Linked DNA regions of Homo sapiens. The protein of the gene in region 4 purifies or fractionates together with the protein of the main gene of each other region. This does not show direct contact. Each region holds a gene or a part of one and is shown on either strand. Other genes may lie near its edges. The genes, in order: EXOC1, STX5, MINDY3, FAM9C, KIF15, STX6 and CEP170.

The links.
Region 1: the proteins of FAM9C (region 4) and EXOC1 purify together in Homo sapiens (co-immunoprecipitation; 2 studies listed by BioGRID and IntAct, with this or other methods). This does not show direct contact.
Region 2: the proteins of FAM9C (region 4) and STX5 purify together in Homo sapiens (affinity purification with mass spectrometry; one large-scale study listed by BioGRID and IntAct). This does not show direct contact.
Region 3: the proteins of FAM9C (region 4) and MINDY3 purify together in Homo sapiens (affinity purification with mass spectrometry; one large-scale study listed by BioGRID and IntAct). This does not show direct contact.
Region 5: the proteins of FAM9C (region 4) and KIF15 purify together in Homo sapiens (affinity purification with mass spectrometry; one large-scale study listed by BioGRID and IntAct). This does not show direct contact.
Region 6: the proteins of FAM9C (region 4) and STX6 purify together in Homo sapiens (affinity purification with mass spectrometry; one large-scale study listed by BioGRID and IntAct). This does not show direct contact.
Region 7: the proteins of FAM9C (region 4) and CEP170 purify together in Homo sapiens (affinity purification with mass spectrometry; one large-scale study listed by BioGRID and IntAct). This does not show direct contact.

The regions. Positions count from the first base shown.
Region 1 is NC_000004.12:55,891,648-55,895,147, reverse strand, and holds part of EXOC1 (exocyst complex component 1), read right to left. Parts: intron 2,604-3,500; coding exon of another isoform or gene 2,595-2,603; exon of another isoform or gene 2,514-2,594; coding exon 2,437-2,513; exon of another isoform or gene 2,436-2,436; intron 1,597-2,435; coding exon 1,368-1,596; intron 1-1,367.
Region 2 is NC_000011.10:62,822,052-62,825,551, reverse strand, and holds part of STX5 (syntaxin-5), read left to right. Parts: intron 1-12; coding exon 13-129; intron 130-212; coding exon 213-269; intron 270-434; coding exon 435-516; intron 517-986; coding exon 987-1,093; intron 1,094-1,264; coding exon 1,265-1,386; intron 1,387-3,500. UniProt on the Homo sapiens protein: Mediates endoplasmic reticulum to Golgi transport.
Region 3 is NC_000010.11:15,777,674-15,780,507, reverse strand, and holds the end of MINDY3 (ubiquitin carboxyl-terminal hydrolase MINDY-3), read left to right. Parts: exon of another isoform or gene 1-659; intron 660-1,366; coding exon 1,367-1,516; 3' UTR 1,517-2,334; downstream 2,335-2,834. UniProt on the Homo sapiens protein: Hydrolase that can remove 'Lys-48'-linked conjugated ubiquitin from proteins.
Region 4 is NC_000023.11:13,038,369-13,041,620, forward strand, and holds part of FAM9C (protein FAM9C), read right to left. Parts: intron 2,505-3,252; coding exon 2,390-2,504; intron 1,549-2,389; coding exon 1,440-1,548; intron 136-1,439; coding exon 73-135; 3' UTR 48-72; exon of another isoform or gene 1-47.
Region 5 is NC_000003.12:44,848,794-44,851,274, reverse strand, and holds part of KIF15 (kinesin-like protein KIF15), read right to left. Parts: intron 1-2,481. UniProt on the Homo sapiens protein: Plus-end directed kinesin-like motor enzyme involved in mitotic spindle assembly.
Region 6 is NC_000001.11:180,998,871-181,002,370, reverse strand, and holds part of STX6 (syntaxin-6), read left to right. Parts: intron 1-3,500. UniProt on the Homo sapiens protein: SNARE promoting movement of transport vesicles to target membranes. Targets endosomes to the trans-Golgi network, and may therefore function in retrograde trafficking.
Region 7 is NC_000001.11:243,192,782-243,196,281, forward strand, and holds part of CEP170 (centrosomal protein of 170 kDa), read right to left. Parts: intron 1-3,500.

The DNA.
Region 1 (3,500 bases), on a different chromosome or scaffold from region 4:
TTATTGAAATAAGATATACAGAAGTATGACAGGCAGAAGAAACCACCCTCCTCTTCAGTGGCAAACCTATGTCCTTTATATATATATATGCAACTTATGAGAAAATATGAATTTATATCTTTGTCTAGATTACCTTCTCTAGTGCCATGCCTTGAGAAGTGTTCATGAAGCATTTTTTAACCTGGCCTAGCCCAATTCATACATACAAGTATAAAAAATGTAATGGATAGATGGCCGGTGTCTCTTGCTTGTAATCTCAGCACTTTGGGAGGCTGAGGTGGGCAGATCACCTGAGGTTGGGAGTTTGAGACCAGCATGACCAACATGGAGAAACCCCATCTCTACTAAAAATACAAAACTAGCAGGGCGTGGTGGCGCATGCCTGCAATCCCAGCTACTCGGGAGGCTGAGGCAGGAGAATCACTTGAACCCAGGAGGCGGAGGTTGCGGTGAGCCGAGATTGCACTGTTGCACTCCAGCCTGGGCAACAAGAACGAGACTCCATCTCAAAAAAAAAAAAAAAAAAAAAAAAAGTAACAGATAGTAAGAAAGTTGTCAAATTTTTTTCTATTAGGAGGAAAATGATAATTGCTCAGTTATAACAATTTATTCCTAAAATAAAATACAATTATTAAAGCTACTAAACTATTAAAATAAATTAAATAATTAAAATAATCAAATTAGTTTTCTTACTAGAATGTATTAAAAGAAGAACAATAACAATAAACCCAAATGATTGTTTCAATTGTTTCATTAAATCAATGGTCATTGACTAATAAACTGAGATGTCAGTGATTCGGTAGATTTTTTTTTTTTTTTTTTTGACACAGTCTTCACTCTTGTCACCCAGGCTGGAGAGCACTGGTGCAATCTTGGCTCACTGCAACCTCCACTTCACAGGTTCAAGCAATTCTCCTGCCTCAGCCTCCCGAGTAGTTGGAATTATAGGCATGTGCTACCACGCCCGGCTAATTTTTGTATTTTTGGTAGAGATGGGGTTTCGCCATGTTCTCCAGGCTGGTCTCGAACTCCTGACCTCAGGTGATCTGCCCACCTCGGCCTTAAAAAGTGCTGGCATTACAGGTGTGAGTCACTGCGTCTGGCCTCCAGTGGATCTCTTAAGCAACTGGTGCCACTGTGCCACTTCCTCCAGAACTTGCCAAGATTCACAGTGTGGAATGGAAACTAGCTGGCATAGTGCCACCCAACTAACTCTGTTCATGTAGATTGTTGCCATGCCCTGCTTCGAGGGACATAAACAACAGATTCCCCAACAGAAAGCTGGAAATCCCTCGATTTTAAATACATTTACCTATATTTTGCAATGACTAGGATGCTAAGGTATTTTTTTAAAAAAGAAAACTTACAATGCATTTGTCAAAGTTCCTTTTGACAGTCACCAAAACATTTCCCAATGTAGTACTTAGGAAAGAAGCAGGGTCCACATTTTGTGCAGTCCACACATGATGACTCATTTTGACTAACATATAAAGAGAGTTAAAGCTATCAATTTTGTCTCCTAATGCAATTAGGTTGTTCAGCTCTGGCTCAATGCAGCGAAATATTTTAATCATCATTTGGCGGATCATATCTTTCCTGTTCAGAAAACAGACAAGAAGTATAAAGTTATAACAAGCTTCAGGTGAATTCACCGTTAACTTTAATCCACTGGGTATATACAAAAGGACAAAAATACCATAATTAAATTTCAATTAAAAATGTCTAAATAGCCAGGCGTGGTGGCTCACGCCTGTAATCCCAGCACTTTGAGAGGCCAAGGTGTGCAGGTCACCTGAGGTCAGGAGTTCAAGACCAGCTTGGCCAACATGGTAAAACCCTGTCTCTACCAAAAGTACAAAAATTAGCCAGACGTGGTGGTGCATGTCTGTAATCCCAGCTACTTGGGAGGCTGAGTCAGGAGAATCGCTTGAACCCGGGAGGTGAAGTGCAGTTGCAGTGAGCTGAGATGGCGCCATTGCATTCCAGCCTGGGCAGCAGAGGGAGACTCCATCTCAGAAAACAACAACAACAAAAAACAAATAAAAATGTCTAAATATGATTATAGTAGTTTTTGATATAAAAATATTTTACTGATGTTGGGTTTTATCATTTGAATTAGTTTTAATTTGTAAAGCTGGGTCATGAAATGTGCTTTGTGATTTCTAAGAAATACACTACAATTCAAAGGCTTCCCCCTACCAGCAAACAACAGACTGACTTCATCTTCTGTAAGTCCTGGAGCAAGGAAGAGTTGAAGAGCCATAAAATAGGCCCTATTTTAAATCAGTAAAACGTTTGATAAGACAATGGACACACATGCTGGTACTGTGAGTGCTGTCAGGCTACTGAGAAACATCTAGACCCCTCAATGAGCAGCACTCCACATTTTAAAGTTTATTTTTTCCAAAATAAACAATGATAGTAACAAAGACATACTCAGATGAAACAGGCAGTGGTGTGCCACAATTATGTTGCCGTGATAATGTTCCTCCATCCAGGTCCTCTGCTTCAGCCTGCAAAAATTATTCAGGCACTTTACATAATAAAAGACCAACAATTTGACTAGTATTGATATAGCAAAAGCCTGCTCAGTCTTAAAATTCCTAGGAAAGAATACATTATGAAAAATATTTTTAAAGGTAGCATTATGATAAAGCTAGCTATATAATTTAGTATGCTATTTAAGAATGTTCATGAGATACTCTTCTTAGGTTTTATCCAAGAACTTTTGTGGGGTGAGAAGTTGTATTTGTGTGTGCACCTGAGGGGAAGTAGGGAGGTACAGGAAGCTGAACGCAAGGTGTGGGAGTGGGGGCAGCTTGACAACAACCACCACAAAAATAGAAAACGTCCAAACACAACTTTCAAAAGAGAATTTAAAAAATTAAGGAAATCTCATCAATTATTCTAATAGAACTTCAGCATTAAAAAAATGCTATAAAAAATTCTTACAGAGGCCAACAAATAAACAAATTTGCCACCATTACTACCATAACAATGAACACTCTAAACCATTTATCATAATCCATTTCTCATTTATTTTATGACTGCTTTTATAAGTTGGTTGTCTGTGGCATACAATTTTGAGATGATAATTTAAAAAACACTTTATTTGCACTGTTTTTAAGTTCTTCAAAATACTCAAGAAACTCTCTCATCTTATTCTCTTATATGTATGCTACCAGAAAGGCATGCTGAATAGGCACTATGATATCTACTTTACAGAAGAGGAAAGCTGGGGATCGAATAACTGGCTTAAGATCTCATGGCTAGTTAGTAACAAAGCCACAAGGAAGGCAAATCTGAGGCCTCATTTTCTTTTATTTATCATTATTGTTATTTGGTATACCAAAGTGTATACACTCTAACATCATTTTAAAACATTATATTTATCTTGATGACTACTAAAATGTTAAACTAGCCTTTTAAATAATGTTCTTTGCAAAGTAAACTCAGACATTCCTCCCCCCACTAATTTAGAGAATATTTAGGCTTGTAAT
Region 2 (3,500 bases), on a different chromosome or scaffold from region 4:
CTCTTTTACCAGGACATCAATAGCCTCAACAAACAAATTGCTCAGCTCCAGGATTTCGTGAGAGCCAAGGGCAGCCAGAGTGGCCGGCACCTGCAGACCCACTCCAACACCATTGTGGTCTCCTTGCAGGTGGGACCTGGGGAGGAAGGGAGGGAGGCAAAGAGGAAGAATGTGGAGCCTTCTTTGGTTGACCCTCTCTCCTTTTCTTCTAGTCGAAACTGGCTTCTATGTCCAATGACTTCAAATCGGTTTTAGAAGTGAGGACAGAGGTGAGAACAATCTGCGTAGGAGGGGTAGGAATATGGGAGTAAAGATCCAAGAGGGAAATGAAGAAGGGACAAGTTCTACAGGGTCATGGGGCCAATGGTGGGAGTCTCTTTAACATGCCTGCTTTCTAGTGGCTTCAGGTCCTTTGCGTTTTTCCCCAACCCCAGAACCTGAAGCAGCAGAGGAGCCGGAGAGAGCAGTTCTCCCGGGCACCTGTGTCAGCCCTGCCCCTTGCCCCTAACCACCTGGGTAAGTCACAGGTAAAACGGGGAGCCCTGGGAGGTAAGGTTACTTACTCTGGTTGTGATGGCATCCTCTAAAGGCACGGGTTGGGTAGGAGAGTGGAAGGTCAAGGAATTTTCTAGGCTTTATCTCTCAGAGGCCAAACCAGATGGTTGAGATTCGTGATCCACATTTAGACTCCCACATTCTCACTGTTGGGGTGAATTCAGTTATATTCAGAATAATGATAATTTCTAATTTTTTTTCGTACACTTTATTCACATTCTCTCATTTAATTTTCACAACCACCCTTTGAGAAAGCAACTATTATTATCCCCCATTTTACAGGTGAGGAAACTGAGGCTCAGAGAGGTTAAATGACCTGTCCAGGGTCACAAGGCTAGTAAGTGCTAGAGCTGGGATTCAAACCCAGAGCATGTGGGCTTTGAACCTGCTTTTAACTGTTAAGGTGTGCCACATCCTGTTTTCTCCCCCAGGCGGTGGTGCTGTGGTTCTGGGGGCAGAGTCCCATGCCTCCAAGGATGTCGCCATCGACATGATGGACTCTCGGACCAGCCAGCAGCTGCAGCTCATTGACGAGCAGGTACCCAGGCTCTGAACTAGGTAGAATCAGCTTCTCCATTATCCTCTGTGGTTCCCGAGAGAGTGTTTGGAGTGTGCCATGGGCAGAATGGCAAGCTGGGAGGGTTGTAAAAATGCAGGTCTGACCCTGAAGAAGCTGTTGGTGCTCATGTGCTCTCTCCCTCTCCTGAAGGATTCCTACATCCAGAGTCGGGCAGACACCATGCAGAACATTGAGTCGACAATTGTTGAGTTGGGCTCCATCTTTCAGCAGTTGGCACACATGGTTAAGGAACAGGAGGAAACCATTCAGAGGTGAGATACACTCTCTCGCCCCAAACAGAGGAGCTTTCTCTTCCCCGTGGATTGGCATCTTAAAGTCCCCAGGGACTGCTTGATGCCTTTTGGAAGATAGAGTGAATTCTGCCCACCCATGGGACCCAGTTCACCTGCTTCCATCCACCCAACAAGTTTTTATTGAGCACCTGTTCATGTGAGGCACTGTTCCAGGTGCGGGAGATACAGTGGCAAGTAGAACAGTAAAGTCTGTCTGGAGCTGCTTTGTAGCATGTGTAAGTGTATGGAATTTGATAGGGCAGATGAGGACAGCTGTGGAAAAGAACTGACAAGGCTGGCACAGTGACTCACACCTGTAATCCCATAGGCAGCACTTTGGGAGGCCGAGCAATGCAGATCGCTTGAGTTCAGGAATTCAAGACCAGTTTGGGCAACAAAGCAAGACCCTGTCTCTACAAAAAAATACAAAAACTAGCTGGGCATGGTGGCATGGGCCTGTAGTCCCAGCTACTCGAGAGGCTGAGGTGGGAGGATGGCTTGAGCCTGGGAGGCAGAGGTTGCAGTGAGCCAAGATCGTGCCACTGCACTCCAGCCTGGGTGACAGAGCCAGATTCTGTGTCAAAAAAATAAAAATAAAAAATTGACCAACAAAATTTCAGGGAGTAATAAAGGCTGTATACAGAGTTAAAATAGGATGATGTGTTAAGAAAGTAATGGATGGGTACGGTGGCTTACACCTGTAATTCCAGCACTTTGGGAGGCCCACACAGTCAGTTGAACTCAGGAGTTCAAGACCAGCCTGGGCAACATGGTGAAACCCCATCTCTACAAAAATAAAAAAATTAGCTGGACATGGTTGCGTGTGCCTGTGGTTCCAGCTACTCGGGAGGCTGAGGCGGGAGGATGACTTAAGCATGGGAGGTTGAGGCTGCAGTGAGCCATGATGGAACCACTGCGCTCCAGTCTGAGTGACAGAGCAAGACCCCATCTCAAAAAAAAAAAAGAAAGTGACTAAGTAGGTATATCAGATTGTGTGGTAGGGAATGCTGCTCTGAAGACATGACATTTAAGCAGAGACTTGAATGACAAGAGGGATCCAACCAGGCAAAGAACAGAGAGTGTTCTAGGCCGAGGAGACAGCTAGAGCAAAGCCTTGTGATGGGACAGTCTCACCATAGCAAGAATCAAGAAGGCCTGCGTGGCTAGAAAGTAATGAACAGGGATAGAGAAGTACAGGGTGTACTGGAGGGATGTAGGCAGAGGCCCAACAATGGGCTGGCCTCTCTGTTCCTCTGGTGCCTCCTGCTACTACAAGAGTTTTTATCTGCTCCTCCTCTGTGGTGCTTAGCATTCAGTCAGTCAGTTATGGGAATATAGCAGTGGACAAAAGAGACAAAATCCTTGCCCTTGTGGAACGTGTATCCTAATAGGGAGATAGATGTGAAAAAGTCATAATAAATAGTATGTTAAAAAAAAAAAAGGTCGTAAATGCCAAAAAAAAAAAAAAAGATAGTCAACACAGGATAAACTAATCAGGAGTGCCAGGTTTGGAGGGAGGTAGGCCCTATTAAGAAGGTGGCATCACACTTGGGAGAAGGTGAGGAAATTAGCTACATAGACCCTGGCAAAGGCCCGCAGGTGACAATATGTTTGATGAGTTAAAGGACAGCAGAGACTACTGCAGCTGGGATCAATGAGGAAGAGAGTTGTACAAGGTGTGGTCAGAGGGGAACTGTGAGACCTCTTGGGACCATTGGTAGGCTTTAGCTTTTACTCTGAGTGACATAGGGAGCCATTGCAGGGGTTAGTTTTTCTGTGTTTGAGACAGAGCCTTGCTGTGTCGCCCAGGCTGGAGTGCAGTGGCATGATCTTGGCTCACTGCAACCTCCACCTCCTAGGTTCAAGTGATTCTCATGCCTCAGTCTCCCGAGTACCTGGGACCACAGGTGTGCACCGCCATGCCCGGCTACTTTTTGTATTTTTAGTAGAGACAGAGTTTTGCCACATTGGCCAGGCTGGTCTTGGACTCCTGGCCTCCAGTAACCTGTCCACCTTGGCCTCCCAAAGTGCCGGGATTACAGGTGTGAGCCATCACAACTGGCCAAATACATTTAACTTTATTTATTTATGCA
Region 3 (2,834 bases), on a different chromosome or scaffold from region 4:
GACATGAGTACATGAAGTTCTTTGTGAAAAATAGGGCCGATTGTATTTAACTTAATAACTTGAATTATATTCTTTGTGTATAACTTTTCAGAGAAGGCAGTTTTGCTTTGGGGACTGAAAAGCCCGAGTTGTAGTTTCAATGTCAATTTATTTCATCAACACTAGAAACTAATATATTAACTAAAATAAAGATGCCAAAAAATGTATTTCACGTTACAATGTATCTTTAGCACTTTCTTAGGAATGAGTAGATTCATGACACAAGATTATCTGATCTAGTAATATATTCTATTCCTATATTTAATGTGTTTTAGAGGCAACTACCATTTAAGGATAATAAAGTTGTTTCTTTTGGCTCCTTAAATAGCTTATGGCTTTTATTTTGGAAGAACATAATTACACTCATGTGTATCAGCCAGTGAATGTGTAAAAATAATTTTATACACTTTGGAAGAAGACAGTCGTCTGTATCTGTTTCTTTTAAATTATACAGCATCAGAATTTCTCTTGGTACAAAAAAGAAATTAACCACCAAGGAGTGCCTTAATGTCCACAGTGAGCCCTTGGTAATGAGTTAGGGTTTTTGTTGATATGTCCAAAATACTTTTTAAGTATGTTTCATTGTAAATTAATCAGAATAAAATTTTTCTTGCTATTCACCTGCCAGTATATATTTCTGTGATCACTGCCACTGCATATACAGTATCTGGTTAGTTTGATCTTTCAACGTCTCTTTTACTTTTCTTTCTGTCCTGACATCCTTTTTAATTTTTTTCTCCATGATTTTTCATGCTGTACAGAATGCACTCATGAATTGCATTTCAGGAATATTTAATACCATAATAGCAAGTTTTGTTGACAAACATTCAAATTGGTTTCAGCTCTAGAAATTCAATACTTAAATTAGAAGGAGACACATGTTCCTCAGAACATAATAGCTATATTCCTTTTATAGCTCTCCGTTTCATTAGGCAGCATGAGCATCTGAGAACCTCAGTATTAAAGCAGTAGGACCTGTATAAATTATATGTAAATATGATAATTAAGCATTTCTTTCCGATGGTATAGATCCGTTGAAGAATGTTTTTTTTCTTAGAAACAATCTATGTGTTTTAGGATTCACATGATCTTGAATTTTTTAAAAATCACCTGGCCAGCTAGCAATTAAATATCGTTTACAAATTTACTTTCACATTAATCAGTAAGCAGATATTCCTTCTCATTTCTAGCAAAATAAAATTACATGTCAAGTTTCATCTGAAACTATGTAATACCTTATTTGCTAGCCTCTAAAAATTGTTTTCATTCCACATAAGAATTTGCTAAGACTGTTGCTTGACCTTGGTGGCTTTATTTTGTTCAACAGGTCATGTACGTAGAAGGGACTGCAGTTGTGATGGGTTTTGAAGATCCCATGCTACAGACAGATGACACTCCTATTAAACGCTGTCTGCAAACCAAATGGCCATACATTGAGTTACTCTGGACCACAGATCGCTCTCCTTCACTAAATTAATTTGTCTAAGTATTTATAAGGAAGATCTTAATAACAGATGTTGAAAGAAGGAGTCAAGACTGGCAATTGGCTGGATTAAGCTAAACACTGGTATCACTGATTAACTGTAAATAACAATTAAAAACACATTTTCAGTGTTTATGATATGTTTAAATTATTTGTCCTAAAGCTTTATGTTAAAGATTATCCTATTTTACCCCTTCGTGTGAAATTTACTAGCAAAATTAAGCTTTCATCAAAGTTCATCACTTTTGCATTCAGATACTTGGTCATTTACTTACCAAATTACAAACGCAATACTACAGCATTTGTATATTAAGTATCACAGTTACTATTGATAAACTACTTTTGGGTTTTATTTCATTGAGGCACTTTTTTTATTGTTTGAATGATTCCGGCTTGTAATATATCAGCCTCTACAATGAAATGCAGAAGAGTTCATTTTTCTAAGATCTGTTTTTCATTAGAAATATTGACAAATAACACATTGTCAACCTGGATCCTTTGACAATTTACTTAACTCTGGCATGTTCACAAAAAGTAGAAACTCTAAGAGACCATTACCATTTATTCACAGATGTATAGGGGATGTATTCTAAAAACTGACAGAAAAGAGAATCTGATAGTCAACACTGTTAACTTTTACTGTGTAATTGCCAAATACACTTTTCCAAATTTGTCCCAACAGCCCTGTAAGCCAGCTTTCTTCTATATTTATAAACACGATAAATGCATGAGAAGATCTGTTATTACATTAGTATATTACGTTATTTATTATGATCCTAGTTGATGGCCTAAATAAACACCTTTTTCTTTAACTGTACCCTTGCATTTTTTACATTGGTGGCTCAAAATAAACAAATACGTACTTCTAAATGTTTCTACCCAATAACCCTGAGAGCACAGAGTACTACAAATGGCTAAGTCATACAGGACCTCGAATAAGAGACCAGGCCTTATGCTAACCTAAGAGCTCTGCTAACTCAGCCAGCCAGAAGCATGAGAACCCACATGGCAGCTTTCTAGACCAGTGAGCAAAGATGCAGAAGCCCGTTTACTTGAGAGAGAGATCTGCTGTATTCTGATAGGTTTGTGGCCCAGCAATTTAAAATCACATAGCCATTAATACTTTTTTTCCTCCACGTGTAAAGCCACGTGTAAAGCAGATAATTATGTAGTATCCTCTTACACATTTCAGAACTGAACATTACCTTCAATAGTATAGTTCCTGTGTGAATTTCTGTTTGGGTTTTGTTTTCTTTCGTACACACACACAATTACAATATAATTAAGCATAGGGAAAGGCATGAGATTTTGT
Region 4 (3,252 bases):
TGTGTTGTATTTTATAAGAACGTATTGTGTTACCAAATAGAACAGACCTTTGTGAATTGCTCGTGTGGTGGCTCAATCTCTTTCAGTTCCTTTCCCATCTTGTTGCCACCTCTTTTGTTGCTCTTGAAATATTTTCTAGAGGCACAAAACAAAAAAGTGATTAAAATTGGGTAAATTTTAATACTTATAAAACATTCTGCATTAAAGAAATACTCTTTAAATCAATACTTCTGAACACTTTCTTTTAGACAACGTTTATGACCAATTTGAAACAATTGTGTTCACCACTCATGTGCTAAAACAATAACCTTTTTCATCAGTCATGGAGTAAAGAATTTTCTTTCTTATACATATTCAACACATACGTCTTAATTCTTGATTTCAAATGAAGAGTATTTGATGACCCTTCCTATAATTTGTTGACCACAGATAGGTAAGATCTATACAGAAATTAACTAAGAAACATTCTTTCTTACTAAGATTTTAAACACCTGTTAAATCTTGGTCATTTCAATATGTACATAGATAAACCTTCCATTAATGATTGCCTTTCTGCACCTTGACCTAATCTCCAACAATAGTGTTCTCCTCTCCTCTACGTGGCACTCACAGTCATCCCCTAAATTTTGTCATTCCCAGTGACTGCAGTATCTACATAATATTAATAATAGCAATGATAAACAGCAACCATGGGTCAGATCGCATCCTGAAAAATTTAAATAAACCTGTTACACAGGAACCCTTTAATCCTCCAAACAACTCTGAAATAGGTACCCTCACCATGTCTCCTTTCGTATATAAAGTAACTTTAGCACAGAGATAAATAATATGCCCATGGTTCCTGAACTAGCAATGGTCAAACTGGAATTGGATCCCAAGCAGTGGGGCTCCAGAGTCGCAGCCCTTGACCACTGCACTCATCTGTTTCTCCATCTTCCCAACATACAGCCACTACCTTCCTGCCACTGTAGGTCACTCACTTCAGTACTACAGCTCAGGAGTCTGTAGGGACCTGACGCCTATTGAATGGAGCACTTTTCACTGCCCAATGCCCCACCCCCATGTGCTCAGGTAACTCAGCCCCAGCTGAAATTCCACAGCCAGTCATCATAACCCCATCCCTGCCTCTATGCCCTGTCCAACTCTCCCTCTATCAACATGCTCGGCTACACCCCAACCCAGGAAATTCCAACCCTACAGCTGCTCTTGCACAAATATGCCAACTGAGTTCACTTTAACTTCTTCATCGCTATGATGCTGACTTCAGTTGGACCCCTAATGCTGCATGGCAATTATATTCCCCTAGTCCATGAGTCCACTAATGGGCGACCCTCTCTGGGCTCATGCTCTCTTCCTTCTTTGCTGGATTTCTGCATGAACTATTACTACCTGAGACATTGATACAATAGGTTAATCATAAAGCTAAGCCTGATACCAACAATTTGTTCTTCCTTTTCTCCATCTCCTTCCTCATCTTTCTGCTCATCTGTGATGAACTCTTCAAGGACATTCGGCAACTTCAGAGAAATTCTATAATCACGTTTCTGCCTGTAACACATAATAAGTAACAAGGTCATACGTCATAGAGGGATGAAAAATTAATCCTATTCAAACCAAAACTGACTTGACATAGTTTGTACTATAAAGTAGCAAGGGAGTAATAGCAGCTGAAATCTTCTTTTTGGGAAAAGGTGAAATGAGTTACTGTCATTCTGAAAGGATCCCTTCCTAACTGACTACTAGAGCAGCTATCTTACATTCTTTACCTGCTGAAGACAAAGGAGGGTTTACTGCACTATAAATTTCCCAGAAACAATCTTTTTCTCCAAGAGCAGTTTACTTTTCATTTCTTCTTACTAAATAACATATGCGTTCTCATAAGGAGGTGCAAGAATATCATAGCCATTCATCCCGTAAGATTTCCCGAAAGAAATACTTCACTTAACTATTTCTCCACTTTGGCACGACAATGATCTAAAAGGAATAGTGAAAACAATTTAACTAAAATAAATAACTTATTTACAACACAAGGTTATCCCTTTCTACATAATTGAATATTGTTAAGAATCTACAGACTAAACGTTGAAGACATTTATCTTATATTCACCTACCGTATTTCTAGAAATGGATAAACATTAATTTTACAGGAAGACTTTTTATCTGGAAGGCAAAAAGAGGTCATCTTCATTGGCTTCTAGGTAATATCTCTCAATTCTGTTAAATTGAGGTTATAAAACTAAAGAAACTTACCTGTTTAGGGAACAATCAAGTAAAATATGTTGTTCCCTAGAGACACCAATATGTACAGGATAGTTCTGGAAATTATTTGCACCAATGAATACAAAGAAATGATATAAATATCATTATTCAAAAAAGCCAACAATCATACCTTTTTAGTTGTGTTGTTCTCAAAACATTTTTAATTCTGTTCTTTATTTCGCTGCAAGCTTTTGCAATCTTTTCAATCCTTTTTCTCTTTGCAGCAAGATGCTCTTTAATGTCAGCTAGATAGTAAATGAATATGCATTAAATGTTCATGTTGAAAAGTAGTTTCTTTGCATATATTAAAATCAATATGGGACTTGATGGTTCAGCAATATCAGAAGGACATTTAAAATGTAAAATGCAAAGATCATTTCAAAAAGCAAGATTTACTTACTTTATGTAAAACCTTTCAGGTATTAGTATTCCAATTTCAGTTGGTATAACAGCAAATCACTTAATTGACAGATAATGAAAAAAAGCAAATAATTAAAAGTTTCTATTTTTTAAGTGTGCAGAAAGGGTTACAAACACAGACTTTAATTTCTTTTTTTTTTTTTTTGAGACAGAGTCTCGCTCTGTCACCCAGGCTGGAGTGCTGTGGCACGATCTTGGCTCACTGCAGCCTCCGCCTCCCGGGTTCACGCCATTCTCCTGCCTTAGCCTCCCGAGTAGCTGGGACTACAGGCGCCCGCCACCACGCCCGGCTAATTTTTATATTTTTAGTGGAGACGGGGTTTCACCGTGTTAGCCAGGATGGTCTTGATCTCCTGACCTCGTGATCCACCCACCTCGGCCTCCCAAAGTGCTGGGATTACAGGTGTGAGCAACCGTGCCCAGCCACAGACTTTAATTTCTACATTTATAAAATGTCCTACAATTCAAAGGACATGTTTCCGTGAAATACTGTCACAACTCATTATGTAAAGCACAAAAAAGTATCTGATTTAATAAGACCATCAAAAGGGTAGAAATAACTTAATACACAAT
Region 5 (2,481 bases), on a different chromosome or scaffold from region 4:
CCCCCTTTAGGGACAGGGTCTCACTCTGCTGCCCAGGCTAGAGTACGCTGGCACCATCATAGCTCACTGCAGCCTCCAACTCCTAGGCTCAAGCAATCTTCCTGCTCCAGCCTTTGGAGTATCTAGGACTACCAGCATGCACCACTGTGCTTGGCTAATGTTTTAAAAATTATCCGTAGAGATGGAGTCTTGCTATGTTGCCCAGGCTGGTCTCAAACTCATGGCCTCAAGCAATCCTCTTCTCCTTGGTCTCCCAAAATCCTGGGACTACAGGTGTGAACCACTGTGCCAGGCCTGCTTTTTATTTTATAATGCTCATGAAATGTAATGTTGACTGTTGAAATGATGTATTATTACACCATTCAAGGCCAGCTAATTTCTAGCTGTTGATTACTGAAATGATATAATACACAAAATTTAATACACCACTCAAAGCCAGCTAATTTCTAGCGGTTGATTGCTAAGATGATATAATACATAAAATTTAATACACAAAGGGCCAGCTAATTTCTAGGCAAGTTGTTTTTGGACTACATTCTGTGGATCTCAGAAGGACAGTCTGGGGAGAAGGGCACTGATGCTCTCCCAATTCATTGTTGGCTTTGTATTGGTTCCCCATTACTTTTAAAAGCATCTTCACAAATATATGGGTAACGTAACGTTTAAAATTGCTGTTGTAGGCTGGGATTGATAAAACAGTGCATGCCGTTTGCTGAAGTGTGCTTCACTTGCCCGCAGTGAAGTTTGGCCTGCTGTATGTTCCAGAGACAGCATATCATGAAGACTCTTGGTTACTAGACTATGAAATAAACTATACACCAAGTTAAATAGCTTTTACTCTTTTTGCTAGAAGACCTCAAATAGATATTAGTTCTAAAATAGCTGTAATTCAACCAACTAGCTGGATTCTCAAAAATCCTGTAAATAATCTGGGTTTCTGACTTAGCTTTACCACTAATTAGCTAGGAGCCGGACTCTGAATGGCTCATACACAGGTGAAAAGGCTGTTTTCCTATGTATACTCTGATTCTATGAAGCAAATGAATCAATGATTGGGTAACAAATCTTTCATAAATTGGGTGGTCTTTGTCAGCTGATCATTAAAAAGAATTTTTGATGGTAAATCACCATGTAATTTTTGACATATTTACTTGCATAAAGTTCAAATAACTGGAATACAGTACCCTATCAAAACTCCTTCATTGCCATTTACTTAACTATGTGAACAAGATTTCTCAGCATTTATATCTATAAAAGCAGAAAATACGAATAGAGTTGATGCTGAATCCTGTCTCATTTGAGAAGTACAACAGAAAAATGAGCTGACTGAAGAAAAAGCATTAGGTTAAAATACATTAAGAGATGCATTTCCACTAAAATTTTCCCTAAGTATAATAATTACTTATAAAAATTTCCAGTAAATTTAAGGCACACTGATTAATAATTGTAATGTGAACTCAATTGGTAATAAACATAACAAAGCCATATGATTAAAATAAATTTTTACAAATTACTTTCAATTTGTGTGTGTGTATGTATGTACATACATATATTTTATTGTTAAGTAGTATGATGGGGTTATCAATAAAAAAATTTTCCAGAAAATATATTAAATCAATATAAAATCCTGCAGGGTGTAGAAAGGAACTTCAATTACAAAGGAAAAAGGAAAAATGTAAAATTTTAGACTTGGAAATTTGTTCATGTATTTCTTAAACAGAAAGTAGCAAATTAGTTAAATACTTTTAAAAGAATGGCAAGAGCTTTATTTTCTTTTCTCTTTTTAAAAAAATTTATTTAAAAAAAATTTTAGAAATAGAGACAGGGTTTCACCATGTTGCCCAGACTGATCTCAAACTCCTAAACTCAAGCAATCCACCTGCCTCGGCCTCCCAAAGTGCTGGGATTACAGGCGTGAGCTACTGGGCCCAGCCAACAGCTTTATTTTCAAATGTCACTATATTGTATATCCCAGAATGTCTATTCTTTGTAACAATTTAAACTTACAATGAAAAATTTTAGATATAAAGTCAACTTCAAAAATATGCAAGAGGGTATATGATGTTTCAAAATCCTTTAAATCAGTATAATAAGCAAAAATGTTTGAAGATCTCTATCCCTAATAAGGAGTATCTACCCAGAAAAAGCCCAATAGCTCTCTAATGTTGTTTTGTTTGTGTTAATGCCAACCAGCTTACTTAGTTTGAATTTTACAGAAAATATAGTACACCTTGCTCATCAAAGAGTGAGGCCATTTATAAGGCTACATGAATTAATATGAAAACTTTATGAATAAATTAAACTCATGGCTTTAGAAAACATAAAGAGACCCAAGGGCTAGACCAGAAGAAATCAGAGTACTGATCTTTGGGTCTCAGAGGGCCTCAGGTTTTAAATCAGAGGAAACCAGAAGCAGAAGTGAAAAGGGACACCTGGTAGTTACATTGTTCTCATTGTCCATGAGGAAAAGCCCCATCGATT
Region 6 (3,500 bases), on a different chromosome or scaffold from region 4:
ACCAGTCCGGGCAACATGATGAAACCCTGTCTCTACAAAAAAAAAATATAAAAATTAGCTGGGCATGGTGGTGCACACCTGTTGTCTCAACTACATGGAAGACCAAGATGGGAGGCTGAGGTGGGAGGATCAGGTTGAGGCTGAGAGCTATGATCACGTCACTGTACCTTAAAAAAAAAAAAAAATTTCCGTGATTGAAGAAAAAGAAATCTGTTTTTAATCTTTCTTTTTTTGACACAAGGTCTCACTGTGTTGACCAGGCTGAAATGTAGTGGCATGATCTTGGCTGACTACAACCTCTGCCTCCCAAATAGCTGGGACTACAGGCGTGCACCACCACACCAGGCTAATTTTTTGTAGAGACAGGGTTCACCATGTTGCTCAGGCTGGTCTTGAACTCCTGAACTCAAGTAGTTTGCCTGCCTCAGCCTCTCAAAGTACTGGGATTACTGGCGTGAGCCACCATGCCCAGCCTGTCAGGCTTATTTCCGAGAGCAAAAATGAGACAGTAATCTGCTGGCTTTGGGCAGGGTACATTCAAATGGTGTCATCCTGAATGATTAGACCCTTGTCCATACCTCTAGTTTCTTCAAGCTAGTTATCTTTCTCACTTTTTATTTCTTAGTGTACTCTATTTCTTGACGAACAAAACAATTGCTATTGTAGAAACCATTTGGTTTTTTGATTGATTGGTAATCACTTCGCATTGTTGAAGAGTGACTCTTAGTGGGTTTGGATAGCGGCCTCTTCCGCCATCTGAATTGCTTCTGGAACTCTTGCAACCCAAGATACTGACATTTCCATATGTAACTACTTGACAGCCGTTCCAGAGTTATCCAGAGCAAACAAGCATCTATCAGAGTGTAAAAAATTGATCCAAGTGAACAAATCTTTAGTTCTAAGTTATTTAGAATAATACCCATTATTAAAGAATCTGAGAAAAAATATTAAGTACAATCTTGTGTCATTAAAATGTTTCATATTTTGAAACTATATGGCTAAGCCATTTGATTAGCATAACTAGATGTAAGAGAACCAGCTGTCTTTAACATATGTACTAGAAAGCAGCTTCCTTGAATAAAAAGACTTGGGATCATACCAGTGCTAACATACGGCTTTTTAAGAGTCATCTTAGGCAGGAACCTTAGTTTGTGTTTGCCAAAGTCTTTATATCATGTGATTTCCTTTTGAAATTATTTCAAATGGTAGATTATCACTGAACTTTATATATTCTTGTTACTTGTTTTATTCATTAGTTGCCTTTCTATATACATATACGTAAATTGTTTATAGATAAACCCACATTTTAATGAGGGAGAAACCTTTCTGGACCTCAGATGCCCCATCCACAGTGAGTGTTTGGATTGGACATTCTTAATTTCTAGCCAGTTCAAAATACTGTTCTGATGAGGAAGCCTTGTTGTTAGGTGACATATTTTTTGTAAGATAAGTAAATCCCCAATTATTTTGTATAAGCTTTTTTTTTTTTTTTTTTGTAGTAGTAGGTTTTTTGAAGGATACTCCTATAGACGTTAATATTTAAGTGGGGCCTTGCAGTGAAGCATATGTCCTTAACCTTAATCATTATATTTATTTCTGCAAGGTAGACTTAGGAAGTTTGCAAATTGAAATTTAGAGGTTCGTATATTAAAAATTAAGTTCATTGGTATAATGGAAAGAAGAATCCAAAGTTCATTTTCTAATATCTGAAAAGCTTTTTAAAGTACATTCTTAGAAAGAGGTTGATATGATTTAGCTGTTTCCCCACCCAAAATCTCATCTTGAATTGTAATCCCCATAATCCCCATGTGTCAAAGGAGAGACCAGGTGGAGGTAATTGAATCATGGGGGCAGTTTCCCACATGCTGTTCTCATGATAGTGAGTGAGTCTCATGATAGCTGATGGTTTTATAAGGGGCTCTTCCCACTTTGCTCTGTCACTCTTCCCTGCTGCCTTGTGAAGAAGTTGCCTTGCTTCTCCTTCTGCCATGATTGTAAGTTTCCTGAGGCTTCCCCAGCCATGCTGAACTGTGAGTCAATTAAACCTCTTTCTCTTATAAATTACCCAGTCTCGGGCAGTTCTTTATAGCAATGTGAGAACAGAGTAATGAGAGGTATTCCAAATCAAGTCAGTACTTCAAAATCTTACTGTCCTTTTAGAGTTGAGATCTAAACCATACTCAACTATGTGATCCACCTGAATATTTTAGGGTTTTAAATCATTCTTGTTTAAATTTATGACCCCTTTGGGGGAAGCTGTTAGTATTTACCAGTGGTAGGCTAACAGTACCTAACTGAGCTTTTGCTGATCTGATTGTAATAAATTCTAGTTGAAAGTCCTATAGAAGAGGAGGAAATAGCAATGGTGCTAACTCGATTAAAAATAAAATATACCTTGTATAATTCCACATTACCACATTTAGCTAAACAGTGTTTGTATGTAGAGATTTCTGGGTTCTGGGTGGAAGAGCTCGATAGAGAGGGAGCAGAGGGTTAGCAGATTTGGAAAATGAGATGAAATGAAGTTCAAATTAGGAATTTGTACAAATTTATGTTAGTTCTTCTGTTACTATTACTAGTGGGCTTTCATTTAATATTGCTCCAAAATTTTGATTGACTTTATCTTTCAAACAGTGTATTCTACTTATGCTTTCTCTTTTGTAGGCAGGGGAGTCAGTGATACTCTATGCATTTTGTGGTTTTTTTTTTCTTTATTTGCTTCAACCTGAAGAAGTAAATCGCCTGTTTCTTCTTGATTAATGTCCATTGGTTATGCCTTTAGTAAGCTTTCCTTGTTTAGAGTTTTGTGTATGTTTTTCCAAGCATCTTTTAAGTCTGTACAAATCCAGTTTTGCTGGCAGTTTTTAGTGAAGAACCAAAATACTCACATTTTTGTGTAAATAGCTTTCATATTTTTGAGGTAATCATTTTTACTCTTGTGGAGTCACCTATACATCAAAGATTCCACATGTGAAATTTTTGTGTTTTAGAAATATATCCTAGAAGTGACTTTGGTTTTACTTTAGGATCAAGAGGTTTTGCAGTATATGGCAGAATAATGGTGAATATAAGGGGTAAGGGAACCTGAGTTCTAGGCTAAGCTGTGACCTTAATAAATCTTAACCATGGTAAGTCATTCAACCTCCCTGGATCTCAGTTTTATCTATGAAATAATCCTCACTAACATTCTCTGACTTTAAAAGTTAGAACTATTACCCTCTCCATGAAAAAACCGAACCTGCTCCAATGTAAGAATTGTTTACAGTCAATTGTAAGTCAAGATGGAAATGGCTTTGGTTAATCAAAAAGGGTGAAGTATCCAGTGTGAGCACAGATGACCTTGAAATGTAAGAATTATGAGTGGGAAGCACTGGGGTTTATGATGTCTCATTCATTCAGCTTGGAAGACAGTGTGAAATGGGAACAGAAGCATAAATAACCAGGACATTTGTTGTTCCTTTGGCAGATGAACCATATTTTATTGGGACTTGTTGCTTGAC
Region 7 (3,500 bases), on a different chromosome or scaffold from region 4:
TGCTTTTAGGTTACAGAAGAATGATATAGTAACATCTCTCTTTCATAATCAAATGTGTGGGATAGGGCACGGAAGACAACAAGCTCCATTTCCACAATAAATATAATAATAATAAATTGTCAAAAAAATCTAAACACAAGGCAAAGAGAACATATAATATGAAAGAATATATTGTAATTTTCACTGTGAAAAATTATCCCTTTTAAAATCTACTCAGCTTTCCTATCACTGAACATGAAAGAAAAGTATTGGAAAAACTCTACATTATCAGAGAAATAATCATACATTTATATGACATGACCTAAGTTTAAAAAAATGTTTGATTAAAGAGTTAATTTGTCTTTTTCTTAAAAATAAAATGTTCAGCTGGACTTGTGAGTGTTTACTCTGAAGTCATGTTAGTTAAAATTTCCATTAGAATAAAATGTATTAACTGCTTCTCATATATTAATAGTTCATTAATGTTATTTTTCTATTTTTTCAGACATTGATTTTTTTTTACTATGCACAATGTACTGTACTTGATCAAGTCCATACAGTACAACTGGTTCATAAACCTGTCCTCTCTCCCTCCCCCCATATAGATATATACATATAGTTTGTTTTTGCTTTGCTCATCCTTCAGGTGACAGAACAACGTCAAGATGGTAGTTTCTAATACCACTACACAGAGAGCCAAATAAAACTGATCCACTATACAGAGAGCTAAATAAAACTGATGTGGCTCAGCTATGAAGCAACACAAAAAAGCTGGCCAGGGATATAGCACTTATCAAGGTCACCTGTTTTGAAGGTCACCATTCCCATGTTAGTACTACTTCAAACTCGCATTCACTCAAAGCTAGAAACTTGAGACTTATACAAGTTAATAACTAATTCATCTAGAAATCAAGTACCTAACCAGGTCAAGTAGCACAATAGAGTGGAAAGGCAGCAGACTATGATCTGATGATCATAACCAGGCAGCCTGGTTTCATGCAAAGCCCAGACAAGATCTGAAATCAGATAAATCTTATCCCTAATCAGTCTGTAGTCCTCATTTTCCTCATCATAAAGTGAGAAAACAGTATCTTCCCATAAGATTGTTGTGAAGATTTAGTGAGATGAGTATTAAGTGAGATCATGTAAGTTACCCAGAACAAAGCAGGTACACAAATAAATGCTTCTCCCTCCACCTTCAAAAACAGCTGAGAATCAGGAAGACAAAAAGCTAATACCAAAACCCAACTCTAAAAAACCCAAGACAGATATGACAATGCCTATCCTTGAATATTCATAAACATTACTAACAGTTAAGATCTTCACCGAGAGGTTTTTACTATTTACTCAGATCACATGTAGCAAACCTTGGGCAGGGTACAAAAGTGAGGATTAAGGACAGACAAATTGCACCAAGTGGTAGAGACAAGATGAAAAACAAGAGCAGACAAATGGCCCCAAAAACATGATAGTCCAGTACCATTCAGTATATAGGGCAAACAGTCTTATATACTACAGTCTCCTGAGGACATTACTGTAAGGCAGTATCAGTATTATTATATTACTAATATATTTGATTATTGATTATATCAATATTGCTATTGCTATTGATATATATAATAGTAATACTGATATTGATGATTGATGATTTTGAGTCATAAGAAAAAGTTTTAAATTATACTGAAACTTCTCTGCTTAAGAAGGTGGTAATATGGGTAATTAATTTAATAGAAACTTAGGAAATGGTTAAACTTCAAAAAAACTATCAACTGTAAAAGTAAAGTTCAATCATCTGGAAAATTCATTATGTGGAAGGATTCATTTCCCTAAAGATGATAAAAACAGATGAAGTGTGGTCCAACTACACTTGAGAAGTACCTAATAGAAAACTATAAGGGGTCTTCTAATCAACACAGAAAAATAAAACACCTTTCCTCCCTCAGAACACTAACAGAACATATTCTGGAATTTAGAAATTTAACATTCATCTATCTTCAAAACTCATTTTGTTATACCAAATGAAACTAAATAATAGAGTAAATACTTGTTTAGACTAATATTATATTATTAATCTCAATTACTAGATTTTAAAAAATTATTTAATGATTGATTATGCCATAATTAATTCCATATATCTCAATCAGAAAAGCAATTGGTGATAATCTGCTTATGTTCTTAAGGTATTTTATGACTGTGTTACCTTAACACAATATGTTATAAGGGATACTTATACTTCATCCAGAATAAATGTTCTTTTCATTCTTCTGTACTAAATTCAATGAAATATTAAACTTATTTGAGATGACAAGGACTATAATTATAACAGCTCATTCTGCTTAAGACATCCATCTAACCTAGTCTGTTCAAGCATGTCAAATTAAGAAGACTGGGAAGCTCCTTTTGCTTAAAAGGAGCTACGACTTGAAAATTTCCAAATTTAGTTTCGCTGGATTAAAAATCAACATGAGAGAGCCAAAAATCTATGATTCCCAGTTGCACATGCCATTTCAAAATGTGTGCAACAGTTAAAGGCCTTTAATTATAACCTAAATTAATTGTTGAGACCAAGTTAGGAGGTAGAAAAGCATAGCTGTAAATAAATTGAGGACAAACTTTACGTCTTAATACGATTAAAAATAGTCACACAATTTCTGGAGAACGAAATTGCTCTAAAGTAAGTATTTGCTTAAACCAGGGCTTTTTAAGCTATATGGCAAGTCTTCGGGAGTTTCTGGATATATATGAACCCACAGAGAGGAACGTTAAAAATTACTAGGTAGCAAACACTCTATTATCCTTTCTGGAATGCAACTCTAAAAATTAATAACGAAGAAGCAAATCACTTTTTGCTTTCACTAAGAGTATGCTACAGGATAAATTATTAAACTAATCACGTATATTCCACAATTTGAAACTTAAAAAAAAAGTTTAAGTTTTTAAAAATACCTTAATTTCAAAATGACCACATTAAAGAACACTTGATATACATTTCAAATCTGATTCTACAATTTCTGCTGGCTTCATAAATTATTACAAGACAGTAAACTATTTTCCTCATCCTATATTTTAAAAAGCTGCAAATGATAAATCTGAAACAGTAATATCCTCATACTAACATAAGAAAGCAAGTGAGAGTCTCTTAAGGCTATTACTAATCAGCTGTATCTGACAGGGCACTTTAAGGAATTTGACACAAGACATAAATCACTGAATTATTACTCAAAAAGAACCCCAAGATCATGAGACGGCTTTTGGTCATCTAGCAGAAAGAGTACACAAGCTGAGAATTCAGTTACATTCATATAGATGAAAGTATTGCTGGATGCTTCACATTTGAAATTTATTTTATTATGCTGAGCTAGGAGGGATCAATTTTTATGGCTATTTGATTTTGGAGTATTTGTTTAAATCTTTGTACCCTATGAAGTATATCCTTTTAGAGTGATTGTGTTTACAAGAGTAATGATGGCTGAAATATTAAAACTTCTTATGGTTAAGAGCGTGGACTCAGGAGTCAGGCA